Linked DNA regions of Homo sapiens. The protein of the gene in region 7 purifies or fractionates together with the protein of the main gene of each other region. This does not show direct contact. Each region holds a gene or a part of one and is shown on either strand. Other genes may lie near its edges.

Region 1 (3,500 bases), about 61 Mb from region 7:
TAATACCATAGATGTAGCTAAAATGAATTTTTTTCTATAATCTTGATTTGAGGTTTACTTACCATTTATAGCCTTTAGATTTGCAGCATTCAGAATATAACGCATGTTTCTCTCTCCATAGCCCGACTTAAATCTCTGCAATGGCTAACGAAGCTTATCCTTGTCCGTGTGACATTGGCCACAGACTTGAGTATGGAGGGCTAGGCCGTGAAGTTCAAGTCGAGCACATCAAGGCTTATGTCACCAAATCCCCCGTTGATGCAGGCAAAGCTGTGATTGTCATTCAAGATATATTTGGCTGGCAGTTGCCCAATACCAGATATATAGCTGACATGATCTCAGGAAATGGATACACGTATGTATAAAGTTGTGTTTCTTTGTTTAAATTCATACAAATTTCAGTGGTTTATTTTGTTCCCTTTAAAAAATAAAACCACAGCGGTCTGACTATACAGTATCTACTGTACATTAGAAACTTCCCTATCTCACTGCCGTGAAGATAGATGGGAAATGTCTTGGGAAATTAAACACCCACCTGGTGCTCCTAACCCCATTCCTGGGTTTCCTGTCCTCCTGGGAGTACCTGGCCTTTAGACTTGCTGGACATTGAGAATTCTTTTCCCGTGTGGGGCCTCAGCCAGACGCAGGCACTGGACATCTGAGGCCAGCCTCACCTGCTGTCAAATGGACCCGTGACTCGGTCCTTCAACAGCTCAGCCTCGTGTCAGATTTCACGGCCCATTTGGACGGCAGGGTGTCCAAGGCTCCTCCTGGTCCATACACGTACGGTCGTGGCCCCCTCTGAATTAGACTGGGGTTCAGAAGTGGCACAGTGAGACCTTGCTCCCCTCCCCAAGTTTACCTCTTTGTCTGGCCAAGTGGCCATGGCCACCTTTGGCCAAGGCTGATACCCGATTGCTTCTTATTTGCCCCGGTGTAAAGCGCAGAGGAGGGCCAGAACCTTCCTTCCTCTCCAGCGTCGGAAAGCATCAACCCAGTGAGCCCTGAGGATGGTGCACGGCTGGATTTCCTTTGTTTTCACAGAAGGAGAAGCTGGAAACCCGAGGATGAGCCTACCTTGTTTTTCTAGGAAGAGAAACTGGCTTAAAGGAATCATGCCCACCCTGGTGGGATGCAGAGTCGGTGCTGAATGAAAAGACCTTCCTTGAAGTTTTCCTTTTTCACGTCCCCATGTGAGGGGACTTAACTTTCTAGGGGCAAGCCCAGTAAAAATAAATAAGTAAATAAATAGCTAGTTTCAGTTGCTCAGCCAGACGCAGTGCTGAGGGCATGACTGGGCTCATTGCCCTTAGTCCTCCTGGCAGCCCCTTGAGGGAGGAGCTGTTATTGCTCTCATTTTGCAGATTAGGAAACCAGGCCATAAAGAGAGCGCTTTGCGGCTGCCCCAGATCACTGGCCCAAGCAGCCGATCAAATGGCATTGCTGTTTCTGTTGTTTCACGGAGGGTCCTTTAGCAGGGGTCAGGACATAAAAGATAAGGAAAGACCCCTGTTTTACAAAGCCCTTTCACAGGTATACAACTTTTTTTGCCCTCGAGAGGATCCTCTGGGGTTAGGCAGTGCAAGTTTGTCAGATGAGAAAATGAGGCTAGAAGCGGTGACATGACTTGTGAAGGCCAAGGCCACACAGCAGCATGGGGTGTACCGAGCCTCGAACTTGGATTTTCTCACTCCAGTTTCAGTGTTCTTCTACCCCTATAGGAGGAGCCCTGTTCCTCCAACCAGGTGGCAATTCTATTTTGGGAAACAGGACTCAACCCCAGCGGCTGGCTCTATCCCTCTGGGTTGACTTGCATGGAAGAGCGACCTGGACTGGGGCCAGGCTTGTTTGTGCTCTGCTGCCCGTCTTAGAACATACCCTCTGGATAGGAAACTGTGCTTCGTCGCCGTCTTGGTGGAGGCTGGGAACATTGCCTGGTCATAGTGACTGGACAAGTTAGCCAGGTGTGCCCTCTGGCCTGAGGCTCATGTGAAAGGCCAGGAGTCTCCCCAGGCTGGCTGAGAGGGGCAGGAGGGGCCCTCAAAGCCACCCACGTCAGGCCCACTCCCCCAGGTGCCTCCACATCCCATGCCAGCCTATCCCATGGGAGTGTGCCCTGTGGATAGCCTCATTGCCAGGGCTGGGTTACCAGCAGGCTGCCAGACGCTGTGCACCTGCGGTTGTGAAACCTAAGAGGGCTTGGCCCGGTGCCAGGTGGCTGCTTTGCTGCGATCAAAATTGGCCTTCACACCCACTACTTTTCCTTTTCTCTGAGCCAGAATCGCCAACGTAGCAAGTTTTTAAATAAATGCAAGCAAAATACTGAGTCAAGCAACTCTGAAACTAAGATCAATTCATGTCCATATTTTGCAGAACCATTGTTCCAGACTTCTTTGTAGGGCAAGAGCCTTGGGACCCCTCTGGCGACTGGTCTATCTTCCCTGAGTGGCTGAAAACAAGAAATGCCCAGAAGATCGATAGGTGAGTTATCCGCAGACGTGGCCATGTGCACGTTGTGGCCCAGGGAGGTGAGAGCTGGGTGGGCTTCACCTTTCAGACACTACTCCTTACCTTGGGGTAGGACTTCTCCATGGCCAATGGAATCCTTCCCCTGGCACAAAGGAGAAAAAATTTTTTTTTGTTTTTGCTCTGTTGGAGCCCAGGCTGGAGAGCAGTGGCATGATCTCGGCTCACTGCAACCTGTGCTTCCCAGGTTCAAGCAATTCTCCTGCCTCAGCCTCCCGAGTAGCTGGGATTACAGGCGCCTGCCACCAGCCCGGCTAATTTTTGTATTTTTAGTAGAGACGGGGTTTCACCATGTTGGCCAGGCTGGTCTCAAGTGCTGGGATTTTTTTTGTAATTAAAATTTTTAGGCCGGGCATGGTGGCTCACACCCGTAATCCCAGCACTTTGGCAGGCTGAGGCTGGCTGATCACTTGAGATCAGGAGTTTGAGACCAGCCTGGCCAACATGGTGAAACCTGCCTCTACTAAAAATACAAAAAACAAACAAACAAACCAAAAACTTAGCTGGGTGTCATGACGCACGCCTGTAGTCCCAGCTACTTGGGAGGCTGAGGCATGAGAATTGCTTGAACCTGGGAGACGGAGATTGCAGTGAGCCAAGATGGCACCACTGCACTCCAGCCTGGGGGACAGAGCGAGACTCCATCTCAAAAAAAAAAGAAATTAATTAATTAAAAATTTTAAAATAAAATAGAGATGGGGTCTCACTATAGGCGTGAGCCACTGCACCCAGCGGGGATAGCATTCTTTATGTGATGATGATCAATATCAAACAATATTTTTATGAGCACCATCTATGAAAATAGAGATTTTAGTGCATCTGTCACCGAGTAGTGTACAGTTTACCTAATATATAGTTTTTTGGCCCTCACACCCTCCCACCCTCCCCCTTCTGAGTCTCCATAGTCCATTATATCACTCTATGTGCCTCTGTGAATCTACTCATAGCTTAGCTTCCACTTATAAGTGAGAACA
Region 2 (3,500 bases), about 75 Mb from region 7:
GTTTAGTAGCAGAACATTTCCCATCCCCAGAAAGGTCATTTACAATAGTGTAAGGCAGCTACTTCTCACCTCGCATTTCAGGTTTCTCTGAGAACAGCAGAGAGCTCAAACATTCATCCATATGCATTGGAAACAGCATTCTGATCTGGCATTTGCATACAAATACCAAAGCAACTTAAGGAACTATGAGGCAGCTCTCCATCATATGACACTACCCCCTTTTATTTTTTCAATGCCTTCCCAGCATCTTCATATCAAAAGCCATTTTCATGTACCTTCCCAGCTTTATTCATTATAAGTTTCCCCTTTCTTGAGCTTATTTGGAATGGGGGATGGAGGAGGAATCTTTACTTCCTCACTTTTACTCTCTGTGGCCCTAAAAAGCTAATGTATTTCACAAATCACTCAGATCTCAAACCTGGAGACGTTCTAAACTCAACTCATCCAAGACTGGACTCTTCTTATCCTACCACATTGCTGAGAAATGGCCATATATTATAGTATTACTTGAATAATATCAGTGTGTGGTTATTTATGCTTACCAAGGCCCTATTCTATTGTGAGGTACTTTTTTGCTACAATTTCTTCATACCAAGCCAAGATCCACTTCCTTGTACTTTCTCACTCATTGGTTCAAATTTTGCCCTGAAATGTTCTTATCTGAGGCATCTCATCTATTCATACAGTTTTAAGTACCTTTAATATGCTGGTGATGTTTAATCTCAAATTTATTATCTAGTCCAGGTCTTTCTCTTGAGCTTCAGACCCAGAAATCCAATTGTCTACTTGCAAGTCTCACTGTGAAACTAGATGTCTCACTGTCTTCTCAAACTAATCAGTTTTCAGTCTGTTTCCGCTTTTAGTGATGCGCCCCATTATGCATCCATTTTCATGGCAAAATTCTGGGAGTTGTCCTTGACATCACCTTCTCCATCTGCACCCAATCATAGTAAGTAAGTGCAATGCAATCTTTCTCTATTACGTATCTTAAATCCATCTAATTCTCTCCATCTCTACTGATGCCACCATCCTGGAGCACACCATGACCTCCTAATTATCTCCCAACTTTCATTCTTTTTCATTACATGCCTGGCTCTCTAACCCCATCCTACACAGCAGCCAGATTAAACTTCTAGAAAAACAAATCTGATCATGTTTCCCTTTTCCTTAATGGCTTTCCATTCATCTTTGGATAGAGTCCAAACTCCTTGTGGTCAACAAGGCTTGATATGATCTGGTCCCTGAATACTTCTCCAGTCTTTTTTTCCCCCAACATTTTATTATGAAAATTCAAACAGACTGCAAAGTGGAAAAAAAATTACAGTGATTATCCATAGACCCACCACCTCAATTTAGTTATTAACTTTTTTTTTGAGATGGAGTCTCGCTCTGTCACCAGACTGGAGTGCGGTGTCGCGACCTCGGCTCACTGCAACCTCTGCCTCCTGGGTTCATGCGATTTCCTGCCTCAGCCTCCTGAGTAGCTGGGATTACAGGCATACACCACCATGGCTGGCCAGTGACTAACATTTTATACTTGCTTTATCATATGTCTATCCATTTACCCATCCCTCTCTCTTAGCATTAATCTTTCTTGCTTCTGGTACATTTCAAAATGAACTGCAGACTCCATTCTCATTTTTATCACTCTTCTCCCTGTTCCTAGCCATAGTCATCTTTCCATTCCTTGAATCAGTTAGGCTATTTTATCTCTCTGGGCTTTTGTACCTATTGTCCCTTCTACCTAAAATGCTTTCAGGTCTTGTTAATTGCAAATTCATCCTTTAGTTCTCAGTTTCAGCTGTCTGAGAGGCTGTCCTTGAACTCCCGATCTAAATTAGATCCACCTTTCCACCTTATGACCCCAAGGCATCTTGTGCCTTTCCTAAATATCACTTATCACAATTGGTAACTATATATTTATTTGCAAAATTATTTGTCTCATACTATCTCCTTTGCTAGATTGAAAGATCCCTGAGGACAGAGACCACGTCTGTATTGGAACATCCCGTATCACCTCTGCAAAACGTCAGTATTTGTTGAAGGAATTAAAGGCAGAATGAATCAATAATTGAAAGGAGCTACTTGGAATAGTAAACTTGTTCTTCCTTTAATATGTATAAACAAGACAGTTTTTTAAAAAGGCTTCTGAGGGAAGGTGGAACCCACTTGTTGCCAGAATATAACCAGGAAGTACATTAAGTAACAATAACAGCTATAATGAATTAAGGGTGGGCTTTGTATTAGGCATATCCCGAGTGCTTGAGTGCTTTCTCTGCATCAAATAATTTTTCTTTGGCATAGGTTCTATTGTTATTCCCACTTTCCAGCTAAGGAAACTGAGAACAGAGCAGTTATTTTAAAACACCCCATCTATGTAGAATATTTGGTCTATCTGTGGCCCCATTTGAAAGTAGGAAGATTAATCTAGAAAACTCACAGACTGCTATAATGGAGATAGGGTTTTACTTGGCTGTAACAGAAGCCTAAAAATATAGCAGGAAACCCACATATAGAGAGATTTGAGAGATGAATCCCTGGTTAGGAAACCTGGGGTTCCATATCTGAAAAAAAAAATCAAACCATTGTGTTGACTTTATTTTTGTGGGAAATTTCAACCCTACCCAAGGCCCTTCCTCTATATAACCCCATACACACACTTCAAATTTTCCCTGCAAAGGATTTTATGCCTGATGGAAATATAGCTTATACACTGAGATAAAACCATTGCAATCTTTCCCAGAATAAGAGCTGATGGTTAAAGGAAAATGAAGTAGTGCAGAATTTCCTAGTGGGAGAACCTGGCCTTCAGACACTGGCTTGAGTTTGAAGACAAGGTTTTCCATTGAATGTGTGACTTTTGGCAAATTAGTAACATCTTCAGACCTCAGTTGCATCAGTTTCCTTCTTTGAAAATGGAAATGACAACATCCATTTAACAGGGTTTAGATATATTGAAATGCTATACATAAAGAGCTCAGCACAGTGCTTGGAACATAGAAGATGCTCAAAGATGTTAACTTTAAAAGAGGAGGAAAGGTAGGGGAGGGTGGTAATTTTCATGCTCAGAATTAAAAAAAAGTCCTAGGAAATTTATTTATTAAATGCACACCATGCATTCTTTTGAGAAAGACAGAGAGAGAGAAAGAGACTGAGAGAGGGGAGCTTGGGTGAAAGTGTCCTTTAGCATTTGCATTGCTCTTAGCTGGATGAACTTGCCTGCAGTCACCACTTACAATGCAAATTGAGTTTAGAGTCCTTCACACTAACTACACAGCAAAAACCTTTCAGCTTTAAATAGAACACTGCAATGTGGAATGATCTGAGCAAACAGAAGAAAAATTCAGAAATACATGTGAAGGAGATATTTTGGAGGAAAAAAAAGAACAATCTGACATAACTGAGCAGGTAGGAGGAAAATGTAGAAATAGTAAAGGAAACAGAAAAGCAAGATCTATGGAAGGACTAGAAGCTAATTCCCCACCCAGTAAGAGGGTATA
Region 3 (3,500 bases), on a different chromosome or scaffold from region 7:
AATGTATTCAGTCAGAGGGTAGAATTAGGTTTCTGGATTATTGTAAAGGAAATTTCTGTATTGGGAGAGGCTTAGACTCAATGAATTAATGAAAGCCATAGTGATTGAAAAGTAGTACTATACAGAAGCATTACAGCAATAACGGTGGCTCTTTTGTGTGATATGGTCAGGTGAAGAACTAGTTGGTTATTAGGATGCCAAATAGTCTCCATATATATACATGCTCTCTCTTTCTTTGTGTGAATTTGTGGCCTTCTATTTATAACTCATCCATAATTCAGTTTGCAAATGATCTTTGTAAAAGTAATAATTTATTTCTATGACATTTACACTTTACTAATGTACACAATGAACAAATCCTCAAAACGACTTCATTGCTGAAGAATTCTAATGAGAATGATTACTTAATAATACTAATATTATAAATAAAGACTAACATTACCATACATATTATATTGATAATTAATGTCTATCAGTGAGATATCATCAACTCCATTACAACTATGCTCATAAGACATCAAACCTGTTAAACCACCAGCCAGACTGATCTTCTTCTGCGCAGTTCCCTTCATAGTTGTCATGATCTCTGTCCCACGTGCTGAATTTCATTCTTTGGTGACTAGCCCACCACTGCACCTCAGGATGAAAATTCCCCGCAAGGGAATCTCCAGCTGTTCCAGAATATTCCCCAATATTCAACTCGTAGAAATTCTAAAGAAAAAGGGCATTTCTGCTGTCAGTGGAGTTCCTCTATGACCATTTTAAAATTAAGTTTATTTCATAAACAAAAGAACAGGTTCTATTGTATATTTTTATTTCCACTGACTCCAGGGTTATATTGCACATTTTAAGCATTTATTCACGGTTTTACTTCTTAGAAAATTGTAGTACCTTTTCATCTCCAACTTTGAAATTCTTATATTGTGCATAACGGCTATTTTTTTCAAAATCTGCAAGGTCGATTTTTAAAGTGTAGTCTTCTAAAAAAGAAACAAGCAATTATAATTTTTAAAAATGTGTGACATGACACGGACTACTGCGGTTTAAAAATAATTCACAGCTCTATTTTAATTTTACCATTTCCCTTGGCCAAGAATCAGTTTTCAAAGATTAAACAGTGACTCCTTTGTATATATAACATGAACATTTTATCGTGTAATTTATTTGAAAAAAAATGATGGATACAATATTAAATTTAAAAAATGTCTACTAGATCTCTTAGAGGTAAAACCTAGTGCAATTCACTGAATAATGAACAACAGAAAAAATAAGTGATTACTTAAAGCAATCTAACAATGAAAGGGTCGACGTTTTACCTTTAATAGTTTGACCTCTTTTTCTTGATTTCAGTAAGAATGTTGATCTTGAATATAAATGGTGGCTATTAATGACATTGTGTAATCTCTAGTAGCTGAGCCACTAGGTTTGTAAAATGTAGTTGCCATTGCCTGCATATGCCTGAACTTGGTTATTTTCCTGATAGCATAAAAGATCAGCCAGGAAACCCTTTAAGAATAATTTGAGGAAGAAATATGAATCCTAATTGTTATCCGAAAACCTTCGTTTGATACTGGCTCATAAGATCAAGAGACTCTTAGCATCAAAGTATGTAGAGTGGATGTCATTGGAAGAGAATTTCAGAGGCAATAAGGAAACATTCTGGAGAAATGCTGTACCACCAACATTCTCAATGGCAGAGATGATGATAATTACTGGAAAATATACTAACATCAATGACTCTGAGTAAAAAGGTATTTCTGAAGAACTGATATCTACATGTGAAAGCATTTTAAGAATGCAATGGGGCCGGGGCGGTGGCTCACGCCTGTAATCCCAGCACTTTGGGAGGCCGAGGCGGGCGGATCACGAGGTCAGGAGATAGAGACCATCCTGGCTAACACTGTGAAACCCCGTCTCTACTAAAAAATACAAAAAATTAGCCGGGCATGGTGGCGGGCACCTGTAGTCCCAGCTACTTGGGAGGCTGAGGCAGGAGAATGGCGTGAACCCAGAAGGCAGAGCTTGCAGTGAGCCGAGATTGCTCCACTGCACTCCAGCCTGGGCGACAGAGCGAGACTCCGTCGCAAAAAACAACAAAAAAACAAAAAAAAGAATACAATGTATTGGGTACATATTATCTTTTATATATGCTAAAGAATGATATATGATGACAAAAAATCTCTAAACATTAAAGATATACTTTAATGACTGTAAAAATTCTAGGCGATATAAGAGCATTATGTTTTTAAAATGATTAAAATAATTGCTACCTTCAAGTAATCTTTTTTTTCCCATTGTTTGGAAATAACAAAGACTATTCCTTTTTCAGAAACAGAACTCTTGTCAGGGGCACCAAATGTTATAAATCAAATTATTAGATCACATGTGTTCTATCCTCCTACTTTGATAAATAAGATATAACAATGACCTGTAAGGTCGGGTTAGAATTTAGAGCCTCACTTTCCTTGGAGTTTCAAGCCAGACCATGGAGGCACTGGGAAAGAGAGTCCCTGAATAGTCCTATCACCTAGGCCCCATCTCTGGTTGGCCTCTTCTCTCTTTCCATCCCCATCTCCATCACTTATAGCAAGGGGCTTTGGATCCACTTGTGGACATCCCAGGCTGCATATCCAAGTTCTATTCACACCCAAGTTGGGTGGATTACAAGGTCAGGAGATCGAGACCATCCTGGCCAACATGGTGAAACCCTGTCTCTATTAAAAATACAAAAATTAGCTGGGCATGGTGGCACGTGCCTGTAATCCCAGCTACTCAGGAGGCTGAGGCAGGAGAATTGCTTGAATCCGGGAGGCAGAGGTTGCAGTGAGCCGAGATCGCGCCACTGCACTCCAGCCTGGCTACAGAGTGAGACTCTGTCTCAAAAAAAAAAAGCCATTTTTTAGCCTCCCCTCAAGCTTAAGGGTGCACACACCAGGACGAGAACATCCTGAAGGAGTCCTATAAACAAACTCAAGGCTGTTGGGGCAGGGAATGCTGGATTCCTCAAGACTGGAGTCCCTTTAAGAGGTGATGCGGGCCTCTCTTGGGCTTGTTGATTTAGCACCACAATTTCCTTGCCCCAGGGAGCTCTCTCAAGGTAGTAAAGGTCACAGGAGAAAAGACTGTAGAGTGTATAAGAGCAGCAAGGCAGGCTAAGTCAACTGTCTTTAAAAATATTCTATTACAGACGAGATGCGGTGGTTCATACCTGTAATTCAAGCACTTTGGGAGGCTAAGGCACGCAGATGACTTGAAGCCAGGAGTTTGAGACCATCCTGGTCAGCATGGTGAGACCACCGTCTCTACTAAAAATACAAAAATTAGCTGGGTGTGGTGGTGTGCGCCTATAATCCCAGCTACTCAGGAGGCTGAGGCATGAGAATTGCTTGAGCCAAGAGTCAGCGGTTTTAGTGAGCCAAGGCTGTGCCACTGCACTCCAGCTTGGGCAACAGGCAAAAATCTGTCTCAAAAAAAAAAACAAAAAAAAAAAACTTCTATTA
Region 4 (3,005 bases), on a different chromosome or scaffold from region 7:
TCTTTCACTTCCTATTTTTTTCTAGCTCCCAGCTCTCCCCACTGCCCTCATCTGTTTCATTTGTTTCAGGTTCTAGTGATGCATTTTGCTGCGTCTCTCCAATTCTCATCCATGTAAGGAGGGAGGAAACAGTGTGAGTACAGTCTGAATACCTCAGTCTCCAGCCTATACCTCAGAAAAGGTGTGATAAGAGTGTGGCTTGTATAGGGCAGGTGGTACAGAGAGGGAATATGGGAAAGTCCAGGGAAGGAGAATGGAGTGGCTGAGAGCTCAGGACTCAGGTAGTGGGCTTCCCTGTCCAAGAAGATGGATGCCTTTCAAGGGGTCCCAGTCAAATGCAAAGCTCCCCTTCCTCACCATCCTGCTGAAGCTAGTCTTGATAAGTCCAGGTGCTAGGCAGTTCACCCTAATGTTCCTTGGGGCCAGCTCTATGGCCAGGGTCTTGGTCAGGCCCAGCAAGGCTGTTTTACTGACATTGTAAGGACTGAAGCCCTGGAGAAAGAAGAGAATGTGTTAGACTCATAGTTTCCAGGTCATTCTTGGTTCTAATAACTAGACATAGAGGGCAGTGCTCAATAGGGATCTCCTGTAAGGGAGGGGCAGAGTTAGGGAACTGTCTTGTGGCTAAACCTCCCCTAGGTTGTGGTTTGTGGAGGCAAGGCATCTATTTTGTGGGCAGGGACTTGGTGGTGTGATTCTACAAGGGGACACAAACTTCCTTGGGTAATAGGAGGGGTGGAAAGATGTGGAGTGGAGGGTGGGATGGAAGAGGTAGACAAAAGGGTTCTTACAGGAGATGGACTGAAGGCTGCTATGGAAGACACGATCACCACTGAGCCGCCTCTGGAAAAAGAAGAGAGCTGACCATCTTCCCATTGTGGACCAGTGCCCTCAGCCCGTGTGGTGTCCCCTCTCACCCAGGCTCTCTCTCACTCTCTGTACCCTCGTTTCTCCATTTCTGGCACCACTGCCTTTGTCATCAGGGCTGGGGCCTTCACATTAATGTCCAGAGTCTGAAGCCAAGAGAAGAAGGGGAAACAGCATGAGTGAAGAGCACTGGAGGAGGCATGAAAAAATGAGGAGTTAGAGTGGGTTCCTAGGATGTTTGTCAGAGCTGACGAAGATCTTAGGATGATATACCTGCATCTTACACATGAAGGAACTGAGGTTCAGGGAGAAGTAGCTCTCACCAGCTGCTCAGCTAGATATTGATACATTAGGTTCAGGTGAGCAAAAATGGAGCCTGGTTCATCTTGTTTCATAATCAGCCAAGTATGATTTGGGCCAGAAGGGGCCTTTGGATTTGAGCTGTGTTTTCTCTGTTTCTTCCAAGTAGGTAGAGCCTGGAATTGTCAGCCTCCTGGACCTGCCCTAGACTACCTGCCCTAGAGTAGGCCATGCTTCTCAGGGAAAATGTGGCCTGACCTTGGATATGTGGGGTTGTTCTAGCACTTCTCTGGCTTCTGGGCTTAGGGAGTGAGATGTTCTTGGCCCTCTAGGAAGGACTGTCTGGCTAGGCATGGTTAGAAAGTGGGATCATGAGGAGTCACCTTCTGGGGAAGCTGGGGGACAGGCTACAATCAGAATCCCCACATCCATAATCTAAAACAAATGTATGACCCTGTTTACACTGTTCTAGACAACTGCTTATATTAAAATATTTCAATCTTACAGAAAAATTGGAGATAGAAGTACAATGAATGTCTAGATATCCTTCACTTAGATTCACCAATTGTTCACATTTTGTCCTATTTGTCCTCTCTGTAGATCTGTACAGTTTTTTAAATGAACCATTGAAACTCAGTTGCAAGTTTTCTGAAAGATTTTATATAATAAAATCAAAAATTACAAAGAACAAAAATAAAAAAATGTAAATTAAAAAAAAAAAACAAACTCAGGGCTGGGCATGGTGGCTCATGCCTGCAATCCCTGCACTTCGGGAGGCCAAGATGGGTGGATCACTTTTAGGTCAGGAGTTCGAGAACAGCCTGGGCAACATGGCAAACCTCGTCTGTACTAAAAATACAAAAATTAGCCAGACGTGGTGGCATGTGTTTGTAATCCAAGCTACTCAGGAGGATGAGACAGCAGAATAGCTTGAACCCGGGAGGTGGAGGTTGCAGTGAGCTGAGATAGCACCACTGCACTCCAGCCTGGGTAACAGAGTGAGGCTCCATCACAAAAATAAATAAATAACCTAAAATAAAATAAGTAAACTCAGTTGCAGATAGTACAATGTTCTATCCCCAAATACTTAGCATACATTTCCAAAGAGTAAGGATTTTCTTTTACACAACCATAATCTGTTATCACAACCAAGAGTTTGACAATGATGATAATTTTATCTAACATATTGGCCTCAATTATCCCCCAAATGTGTGTGTGTGTTTTTTAAAGTCCAGAGTTCAATCAAGGATCAGCCATTATGTTTGGATTTGTCATACTGTGATAGTTTAAAAAATATACAAATTAAAAGAAAAGTTATAGACACATATTTTCTTATGCTTTGCAGATATTGTGTTTTTTTTTTTTTTTTTTTTTTTTTTTTTTTTTTACAAATTGCAGTTTCGTGGCAACCCTGCATTAATTCGAGCCATTTTTCCAATTGCATGTGCTCACTTTGTCTCTGGGTCACATTTTGGTAATTCTTGGAATATTTCAGACCTTTCCATTATTATTGTATCTGTTACGGTGATCTGTGATGAGTGATCTTTCATGGTTTTATTATAATTGTTTTGGGGTACCACAAACCACACCCAGAAAAGAAGGTCAACTTAATCGAAAAATGTTGTGTGTTCTGACTGCTCTGCCCTTCTCTCATCTCTCTCCCTCTCTGTGGGCCTCCATATTCCCTGAGACACATTTACATTGAAATTAGGCCAACTATTAACCCTACAATGGCTTGTAAGTGTTTAAGCAAAAGGAAGAGTCACACATCTTTCACTTTAAATCAAAAGCTAGAAACAATTAAGCTTAGTGAGGAAGGCATGTTGAAAGCTGAGGCA
Region 5 (2,607 bases), on a different chromosome or scaffold from region 7:
TGTGTCCCCTTTAAATTGGGAGGATAACAGTACCTCCATTACAGTATGTATTAATTAAATAATTCATATAAAGTGGTTGTGCCTGGCACATAGTAGGTGCTTATGTCATATTTAATGCAGTTATTAAATAAACATGTTTACATCATAATTCACACAGTTGTATTAGCACATTTGACAACCAGTTTTACTTGTTTACAGATCTATCTATACTTCCTTCCCATCCTACAATAGACTCTTTGATGGGGCACGGAAGTGTTGGGGGCAACTTGTATGATTTCTGTTTTCCCAGGACCTAGCACTGTGCCTGGTATATAGCAGTACTGAATATATGTTTGCTGAATGAATGGGAAAGTTGGTCTGAAATTCATTCCTTGATTGGCTATGGCAAGAGATGAAAAAATACCACCATGAAAATGCTCAAATGCAGTGGCTCAGTATCTTAATTTCTAGAGAGCATATTTTACAAGCAATAGTCATCCCAGCACCCCAATCTAAGTGCCAGTACAGAGATGAATGGAAGCCAACAGGACAGATATGGGAAAACAGTGTGGAGAGTCTACAAACAGAATCACTGGCAGGGAAGAGGGATTTCTAACGAGCAGACAGGCATTATGTATTCTGGTGTCATTGTGGGGCCAAGAGGCTATATGGGACACAGAAAAAGATAGCAGTTTATAAATATTTCAGGGCAAACTTTACCCTACTAAGCTGCAAATATGAATTTAGATGGATGACAAGTTAGATAAAAAAAGCCACTGAAATGAAAAGTGAAGGTAGAGCTTGTTCACAAGGGACAAGAATAGTGACCTGCAAACTTGAGAAAATCTGCATGGAGAGGCATTTTTGGAATGTGTAACTGCAATTCTATACACAGGGTCTGTTTTTTATCATTAAATGCAACACTAAATAGTCAACCAAGTAAGTGATTTTATTATTATCAACTATAACATTCAAATCAGATTACATAAAAATGGTTCTATAAAATTATATTTTAATTACAATTTCCTATTGAAGGACTATACCTTCCTGACCTTTCCCCACAGTGATTCGGCACATAAAACAGGTGCTGAACTGTAGCAGTTGTTTTACTCCATCCTGTAGGTTAGAGAAACTCATCAGAAGAAAGTTTCAATCACTTCACTGTTATTTTCTGCAATTCTTATTCTCTTATAGCCGATAATCTTCAGGTCTGAAAGAAAAAATCAACATATTTCTTCATGAATCATTATTTTGTTTTCTCCTGACTGATGAGGATTATTTTTCCAATTTAAAATAAAAATAACTGTTCACCAAGAAATAGCTACAAACACTATATCTAAATTTTTGGTGAAAAAAAAACATTAACATCAAATCTTTATAAAGTAGAACAGTTAAGTGACAACTCCAAAGTCTTTTTGAAAGTATAAATATAAGCCACCTTGTGCCTATATAAGAATGTATTTAGTAACTTAATAATTTGAATTCAATTTCTCTGTTCCATTTTTAAACTTTTATAAAGTCCTTATTGAAAAGATTACTATAATCTTTAAGAGTTTAAAAATCATACGAAGACATGGATTTATAGTACAAATGCAAATTTTGAGTAAGTGATTTTTCCTATTTATATTATCATATGCTAAATTTAATTTTCATTATGATCCATATACAAAATAAGTGTATAAACATCAGTCCTTTAATATTTATTTACAAACATAACTGGTTTTCCTTATTTATGCAATTATAAGATTAACCACACCTGAGAGCTGCTTTCATTAGTCAATTAAAAAAATTTTTCAGAAGTATTAAATTATAACAATAGACAAAATTAAACATAGGAAATTATAAAATGCAAACAATTTGTCCTGTTATCTTTTCAAAAGTGTATTTGTAGGTGTTGGGTTTCCATATGGAATTTTCTGAAGGAAGTTGGTAACAAACTAAACAGATATTTTGGCAAAGATGACTGATTAGAAGCAGCTGTGGTCTGCAGTTCTCCCAGAGGAATGAAAATGGCAAGTGAATTCAGCACCTTCAACTGAAATATCCAGGTTTTCACATTGGGACTGACTAGGCGGACAACTCGACCCATGGAGAAAGAACTAAGGAAATCAGGATGGAGTGACTGCCCACCTGGGAGTGGCATGGAGCCAAAGAAACCCCCACTCCCAGCCACGGGAAGCAGTGAGTGATTGTGTGACCCCCACCTGGGAAACCACGTTTCTCTCACGGATCTTTGCAGCCTGTGGATCAGGAGATACCCTCGTGAGCCCACACCACCAGGGCCTTGGGTCCAATACACAGAGCTGTGCAGAGTCTTGGCAGAGCAGTTGCTCAGGCTCACACAGAGACCCAGGAGTTTAATAGACTCTAGCCCCAGGAATCCCGGTAAGGCAGGAGATCCATCCATAAATTCTCCAAGGAAGGGAGCTGAATCCAGGGAGCCAAGCGGTGTTGTTCTGCGGGCCCCACTTCCATGGCATCTCACAAGTTAAGCCTCACTGGATTGGAAATCCAGCCAACCAGTGCAACAGGCTGGAGACTGCCTGAGATGGACAAGTTCCTGGGGGGAGGGGCAGCTGCCATTTCTGTGGTTAGGTCGACTCAGCCATTCTAGTCTGCCAGCTCCAA
Region 6 (3,500 bases), on a different chromosome or scaffold from region 7:
CGCCCGGCTAATTTTTGTATTTTTAGTGGAGACGGGGTTTCACCATGTTGGCCAGGCTAGTCTTGAACTCCTGACCTCGTGATCTGCCCGCCTCAGTCTCCCAAAGTGTTGGGATTGCAGGCGTGAGCCACCACACCTGGATTTTTTATTTATTTATTTTTTTTATACAGAGTCTCGCTCTGTCGCCCAGGCTGGTGTGCAGTGGCGCGATCTAGGCTCACTGCAACCTTTGCCTCCTGGATTCAAATGATTCTCCCACCTCAGTCTCCCAGGAAGCTGGGATTATAGGCAGGTGCCACCATGCCTGGCTAATTTCTGTATTTTTACTAGAGACGGGGTTTCACCATGTTGGCCAGGCTGTTCTCAAACTTCTGACCTCAAGTGATCCGCCTGCCTCGGCCTCCCAAAGTGCTGAGATTATAGGTATGAGCCACCATGACCTTACTATTTTTTTTTTTTTTTTGAGACAGGGTCTTGCTCTGTTGCCCAGGCTAGAGTGCAGTGGCATGATCACAGCTCACTGTAGTCTCAACCTCCTGGGCTAAGGTGATCCCACCTCAGCCTCCCGAGTAGCTGAAACCACAGGCATGTGTCAACATGCCCAAATAATTTTTAACAATTTTTTGTAGAGGTGGGGTCTCACCGTGTTGCCCAGGCTGATCTCAAACTCCTGGGCTCAACTGATCCTCCTGCCTCAGCCTCCCAAAGTGCTAGGACTACAGGCATGAGCCACCATGCCTGGCCTGAAATCACTATTTTTGAATATGGAAAAACATATTGATAGACACTGTACAGCGCAGTGTAAAACCTCTGGGTGTGAGAGCAGGTAGGCAAGTGTCTAAAAAGATGAGACTGGAGGGGAGCTAATTCCCCAGAGAAATTCTATACTTCAAGGTGATATGATCCATAGGGCAATTGTTAAAGCTGCAAAGCCCCATGGGACATCAGTAGTCACACTTTCTTACTTTTACATAAAGTGCTCTGCAAACAGTTTCAAGTTCTTCCTTGCAACCAACCACATTGCTCTGCATTAGCCTACTCCCATTTGGAAAGAGAGAAGCAGTCATGGGACCAGATGCTGAGGGAGCTGGGAATGTAGTCAAAACGGGTACCTTTCAAAATGTATATTATTCCATCAGCCCAGTGGCCAGTTCTTCCCCACAGACTCACTCTCCAGGTGTGAGAACCTGGCCACACACTGGCAGTAACAAGGCTGAAATGGGCCTTCCATAACATACTACCAAGTGTAGACCTTATTCGACTGAGTCCTGGCTCTGCTACCTACTAGGTGTGTGGTATAAAACAGACACAATCACAGTATCCCATTGAGCTGTCTCAGGAATCAAATCAGATCTGCCACGGCAACAGTCAGCAAACGTTTCCTGTACAGGCCCAGATAGTAAATATTTTTGGCCCGTGGGCCACATAAGTCTCTTTTACAACTACTCAACTCTGCAAGAAAACAGCCATGGACTATATGTATGTGAAAGGGTGCTGCTGCATTCCAATAAAACTTTATTTACAATAGCAGGCAGTGGGCCACACTGCTTTGGGAAAGGGGAAGACCTCTACAAATATTATCTTCTAAGGACTCCCATGTTGAAATGTAGTCATCTGTTTATGTCTGCTTTCTCACCATACTATGAAGTTTCTAAAGGCAGATAATATATTCCCTTTTTTTCAGATTAAAACAAAAAGAAACTGGGCATGGTGACTCATGCCTGTAATCCCAGCATTTTGGGAGGCCAAGGCAGGCAGATCACTTGAGGTCAGGAGTTCGAAACCAGCCTGGCCAACATATGAAACCCCATCCCTACTAAAAATACAAAAATTAGCCAGGTGTGGTGGCACACACCTGTAATCCCAGCTACTTAGGAGGCTGAGGCAGGAGAATCACTGGAACCCAGGAGGCAGAGGCTGTAGTGAGCTGAGATCGCACCACTGCACTCCAGCCTGGGTGAGAGAACAAGACTCTATCTAAAAACAAAAAAACAAACAAAAAGAATAAGTATAGTCCAGTATGGCATACAAGGAAGTCCACAGGAGTTTTCACAACTGTACAAGTTAATACTAAAGTAGAATTCTAAGTACAAATGCTGACAGGCCTAGGAGTGACAGACACAATGAGAGAAGCCAGTCATTAGACAGGCCCACCTCCCTCTTAAAGGGCAAAGTCTCCACTTAACTCGGGTGGTGGGACAATTGTTGCCATGCAGAATTCTGATTTGGTGTTAACAGACTTTATTGATATTTTCAAGAAAATACCACAATCAGGTATTTATAAGAAATCTGCTCATTTTTCAATGTTGACAACTAATTCAAAAATTTAAAAAACAAAACATTATGAGCCAAATAAACATGCATGTGGGCTGTTTCAGCCCACTTGTGCAAGCTCTGATATAAAGAATTCATTTCCAGCCAGGCATAGTGGCTCATGCCTGTAATCTTAGCAACTTGGGAGGCCAAGGTGGGAGGATCACTTGAGCTCAGGAGATGGAGACCAGCCTGGACAACATAGCAAGACCCCCATCTCCACAAAAAATAAAAAATTAGCTGGGCATGGTGGCACACACCTGTAGTCCCAGCTACTTGGACAGCTGACATGGGACGATCGCTTGAGCCAGGAGATGGACGCACCAGTGAGTTATCTCACCATTGCACTCCAGCCTGGGCAACAGAGCAAGACTCTGTCTCAAAAAAAAAAAAAAAAAAATCCACACCTGTAACCGTAGCACTTTAGGAGGCCAAGGGGTAGGGTTGGATCACCTAAGGTCAGGAGTTCGAGACCAGCCTGGGCAACATGGTGAAACCCCGTCTGTACTAAAAATGCAAAAATTAGTTGGGCGTGGTGGCATGTGCCTGTAATCCCAGCTACCCAGGAGGCTGAGGCAGCAGAATCACTGGAACTCGGGAGGCGGAGGATGCAGTAAGCCAAGATCGCGCCACTGTACTCCAGCCTGGGCTACAAAGTGAGACTCCACCTCAAAAAAAAAAAAAAAAATCAACTTCACAGAAAAATGTCAAGAATAGTACAATGAATTCCCATATCGCCTTCACCTGGATTCAATCTTACTCATTTTGGCATCTCTGAATTCCAATGCACGGAAGGCACTGAAATGTTGAATCATGGAATGAATCTCATAAGGAAAAATAAGCAAAACATTATGGGCCGACTTCCTATAAGTTAAAGTGACAGGAGGAACGAACTCTGAAAAAATCTGAGAGAAAAGAAACTAATCAGATAGAAGGATTGGAACAAGAAGAAAACAGAACAGACACAAAGAGTCTATGGGATGTATGTTTATTTCACCTGCTGAATGCTTGCTTTGTTTTATTGCATTTGATTGTTATTTTATTATTTTTTTTGCTGGGTTTAAGTAGTAAGAGAAACAGACAAATCACCAAGAAGCCAGGTAAATACCACACAAGGACAGGAGAGACCAGCTAAACCGATGGTGTACTCTCAGCAAAACCTTCCTAATTCAACCATCACCTGTTTG
Region 7 (2,933 bases):
TTATTGAATAGGCTTCAGTACATTTTATCTTATTTATTATTATTATTATTTTTGAGATGGAGTCTCGCTCTGTCACCCAGGCTGGAGTGCAGTGCAGTGGCACGATCTCAGTTCACTGCAATCTCCGCCCTCTGGGTTCAAGCAATTCTCCTGCCTCAGCCTCCCTAGCAGCTGGTATTACAGGAGTGCGCTACCACACTTGGCTAATTTTTGTATTTGTAGAAGAGACGGGGTTTCGCCATGTTGGCCAGGCCAGTTTTGAACTCCTGACCTCAGGTGATCCGCCCACCTCAGCCTCCCAAAGTGCTGCGATTACAGGCGTGAGCCACCACACCCGGCCAGCTTCAGTACATTTTATTAATAAAATAGATACCTTCAAATGTAGGTCTTTATTTTTTGCTACAATAGGAAAAACAATAACTTTAAACTGCTTGCAGAAGAAACTTTTAAGTAGAAATTTTAGTTTCCTTCTCATTGACAACCTCAAATGTATAACGAAAAATGACTGAGAAATATTACTTTTTAAAGGTTATTAGTAGGTGGCAGTTTGCTTTTTTTATATAAACTCCCTTCGGTATCTGAACCTGGCATCAACTATTAAACCATTCTTACATTGACAGACATGAATCAAACCTTTGCTCATAAAACATTCATAATAGGGACCCTAAAGTATCAACACCCAATAAAAAGAAAGCCACTCTTGTCATCTGCAACCAGGTGAATTGATTACACTCCCTCTGAAGCCTGCAGCACAGCAAGCATGGTGATGAAGGGGCTGCTTAATAATGTTCATTAAAAAGACTGCCCCAGGTAAGAGGCACTAATGAAATGCCGGATAAAAGTTTGATTATAAAAACAACTGAGCAGAAGCAAATTGGCACGCTACATATGTAACCTATTAGGATTAAGGAAAACATTGTAGGTTTCAGTAACTGATAATAACAAGCTCTGTCTCTGAAAAGACAGATCTAGCCATGTTCAAACCTAAGCAGGCCAGGGAATTTTACTGTGAAGCTGAGATTTACTAAACCCAAGGAAGGTACCATAAACTGGCTTGGAAATCCTTTCAGCTTTGAAAGAAAGCTGCTGTCTCCATGCCACCAGCTGTTTCAACAGAAGGGTTAAACATCTACAGATCTGGCCAGGTGCAGTGGCTCATGCCTGTAATCCCAGTACTTTGGGAAGCCGAGGCGGGTGGATCACCTGAGGTTGGGAGTTCGAGACAAGCCTGACCAACATGGAGAAACCCCATCTCTATTAAAAATACAAAATTAGCCAGGCGTGGTGGCACACGCCTGTAATCCCAGCTACTCGGGAGGCTGAGGCAGGAGAATCCCTTGAACCCAGGAGGCGGAAGTTGCAGTGAGCCGAGATCATGCCATTGCACTCCAGCCTGGGCAACAAGAAACTCTGTCTCAAAAAAAAAAAAAAAAAATCTACAGATCCACAGAAAACTTTACTGTCTGTTAACATTTATTTCCAAAGATAAGTCTCTCTGGGCCATTTACTCTTCTGCCTTGAATGTAATCCATTAAAAAATAATAATAATGTTAGTATGAAAATAATAAAAGATGCAATCTTTCTCAAGAGATGATTTATCTTAGCCAGGGCTGAAAAACAAGCTAACAGCTCACACAAAATACACAATTTTTCAAACTTTAATATTTCAGCTGTCCCTGTGTATTTCAGTCAAAATCTTATGTGGAAAAAAAAAACTATAGAAAAGCTTAACAATATATATTTTATATTTCATCTCAAACCTCTTATACGGCTTTCTATTGCTTCTTTCCATTTACTGGCTACTATATGTCTGTTTACACGATGATAAAATCAGGAACATGTTTAGCTCTCAAAGACTATAAAATATTTTGTTCTTAATTAAATGAATCAAACCACCACAATAAAATATACCTGTAAATTTGTTTGTAAAAATATATATTCAGCAAAAAACCTTTAAAAATTCCCAAATATTGGCCAGCCACGATTACAGGTGGCTCACGCCTGTAATCCAAGCACTTTGGGAGGCCGAGGCAGGATCACTTGAGCTCAGGCATTCAAGACCAGCCTGGCCAACATGGTGAAACCCCATCTCTACAAAAAATACAAAAAAATTAGCCAGGTGTGGTGGCACATGTCTGTAGTCCCAGCTTTGGAGGCCGACGCAAGAGGATTGCTTGAGTCCGGGAGGCAGAGATTGCAGTGAGCTGAGATCACGTCACTGCACTCCAAACTGGGCAACAGAGTGAGACTCTGTCTTTAAAGAAAACAAAAACAAAAACACATACACACACCCAAATGGTATTATTTATCTCCTCAAACTAATTATGTTCTTGAAAATCAGTATGTTTTGTCTTTGTATCCACCAAGGAACCATTCAAATGATTGTAATGGACTCTAACTTTTGCTTTTTTTTTTTTTTTTTGAGATAGGGCCTTGTTCTGTCACCCAGGTTGGAGCACAGTGGCATGATCTCGGCTCACTGCAGCCTTGACCTCCCAGGTTCAACTGATCTGCTTGCCTCAGCCTTCTGAGTAGCTGGGACTACAGGTGCACACCATCACGCCTGGCTAATTTTTGTATATTTTTTGTAGAGACTGGGTCTCACCATGTTGCCCCGCTAGTTTCGAACTCCTGGGCTCAAGCAATCTGCCCGCCCTGGCCTCTCAAAATGCTGGGATTATAAGTGTGAGCCACTGTGCCTGGCCTGATTTTCTTTTCTCTCCCCTCTCCTCTCCAGTTTGCCTTCGCCAGCATAAATTACAACATAAGCTAATTTTACAAGATGCAGAAAGAGTTACTTTCTTTTTTCCATCTGCCCAAGGGATGAAAGGAAGACATGAAGCTTAGATTAGTCTTCGGAATGCAGAACACTAAAGTTGTTGAAGAAAGATGTGAAAGCAGGCACCAGCAGGTCTTCAGCTGGGACAGGCATG

What was found.
Region 1: the proteins of MCCC2 (region 7) and CMBL purify together in Homo sapiens (tandem affinity purification; one large-scale study listed by IntAct). This does not show direct contact.
Region 2: the proteins of MCCC2 (region 7) and PPP2R2B purify together in Homo sapiens (co-immunoprecipitation; one large-scale study listed by IntAct). This does not show direct contact.
Region 3: the proteins of MCCC2 (region 7) and FGL1 purify together in Homo sapiens (co-immunoprecipitation; one large-scale study listed by IntAct). This does not show direct contact.
Region 4: the proteins of MCCC2 (region 7) and DHRS4 purify together in Homo sapiens (co-immunoprecipitation; one large-scale study listed by IntAct). This does not show direct contact.
Region 5: the proteins of MCCC2 (region 7) and MRPL13 purify together in Homo sapiens (co-immunoprecipitation; one large-scale study listed by IntAct). This does not show direct contact.
Region 6: the proteins of MCCC2 (region 7) and KATNIP purify together in Homo sapiens (tandem affinity purification; one large-scale study listed by IntAct). This does not show direct contact.

The regions. Positions count from the first base shown.
Region 1 is NC_000005.10:10,287,403-10,290,902, reverse strand, and holds part of CMBL (carboxymethylenebutenolidase homolog), read left to right. Parts: intron 1-121; 5' UTR 122-140; coding exon 141-355; intron 356-2,373; coding exon 2,374-2,481; intron 2,482-3,500. UniProt on the Homo sapiens protein: Cysteine hydrolase. Can convert the prodrug olmesartan medoxomil into its pharmacologically active metabolite olmerstatan, an angiotensin receptor blocker, in liver and intestine. May also activate beta-lactam antibiotics faropenem medoxomil and lenampicillin.
Region 2 is NC_000005.10:146,872,258-146,875,757, forward strand, and holds part of PPP2R2B (serine/threonine-protein phosphatase 2A 55 kDa regulatory subunit B beta isoform), read right to left. Parts: intron 1-3,500. UniProt on the Homo sapiens protein: The B regulatory subunit might modulate substrate selectivity and catalytic activity, and might also direct the localization of the catalytic enzyme to a particular subcellular compartment.
Region 3 is NC_000008.11:17,868,025-17,871,524, forward strand, and holds part of FGL1 (fibrinogen-like protein 1 precursor), read right to left. Parts: intron 981-3,500; coding exon 892-980; intron 712-891; coding exon 524-711; intron 1-523. UniProt on the Homo sapiens protein: Immune suppressive molecule that inhibits antigen-specific T-cell activation by acting as a major ligand of LAG3. Responsible for LAG3 T-cell inhibitory function. Binds LAG3 independently from MHC class II (MHC-II).
Region 4 is NC_000014.9:23,963,770-23,966,774, reverse strand, and holds part of DHRS4 (dehydrogenase/reductase SDR family member 4), read right to left. Parts: intron 2,198-3,005; coding exon of another isoform or gene 2,177-2,197; exon of another isoform or gene 1,014-2,176; coding exon 943-1,013; exon of another isoform or gene 844-942; coding exon 792-843; exon of another isoform or gene 493-791; coding exon 358-492; exon of another isoform or gene 70-357; intron 1-69. UniProt on the Homo sapiens protein: NADPH-dependent oxidoreductase which catalyzes the reduction of a variety of compounds bearing carbonyl groups including ketosteroids, alpha-dicarbonyl compounds, aldehydes, aromatic ketones and quinones.
Region 5 is NC_000008.11:120,394,937-120,397,543, forward strand, and holds the end of MRPL13 (large ribosomal subunit protein uL13m), read right to left. Parts: intron 1,190-2,607; coding exon 1,168-1,189; 3' UTR 501-1,167; downstream 1-500.
Region 6 is NC_000016.10:27,556,644-27,560,143, reverse strand, and holds part of KATNIP (katanin-interacting protein), read right to left. Parts: intron 1-3,500. UniProt on the Homo sapiens protein: May influence the stability of microtubules (MT), possibly through interaction with the MT-severing katanin complex.
Region 7 is NC_000005.10:71,653,340-71,656,272, reverse strand, and holds part of MCCC2 (methylcrotonoyl-CoA carboxylase beta chain, mitochondrial isoform 1 precursor), read right to left. Parts: intron 1-2,933. UniProt on the Homo sapiens protein: Carboxyltransferase subunit of the 3-methylcrotonyl-CoA carboxylase, an enzyme that catalyzes the conversion of 3-methylcrotonyl-CoA to 3-methylglutaconyl-CoA, a critical step for leucine and isovaleric acid catabolism.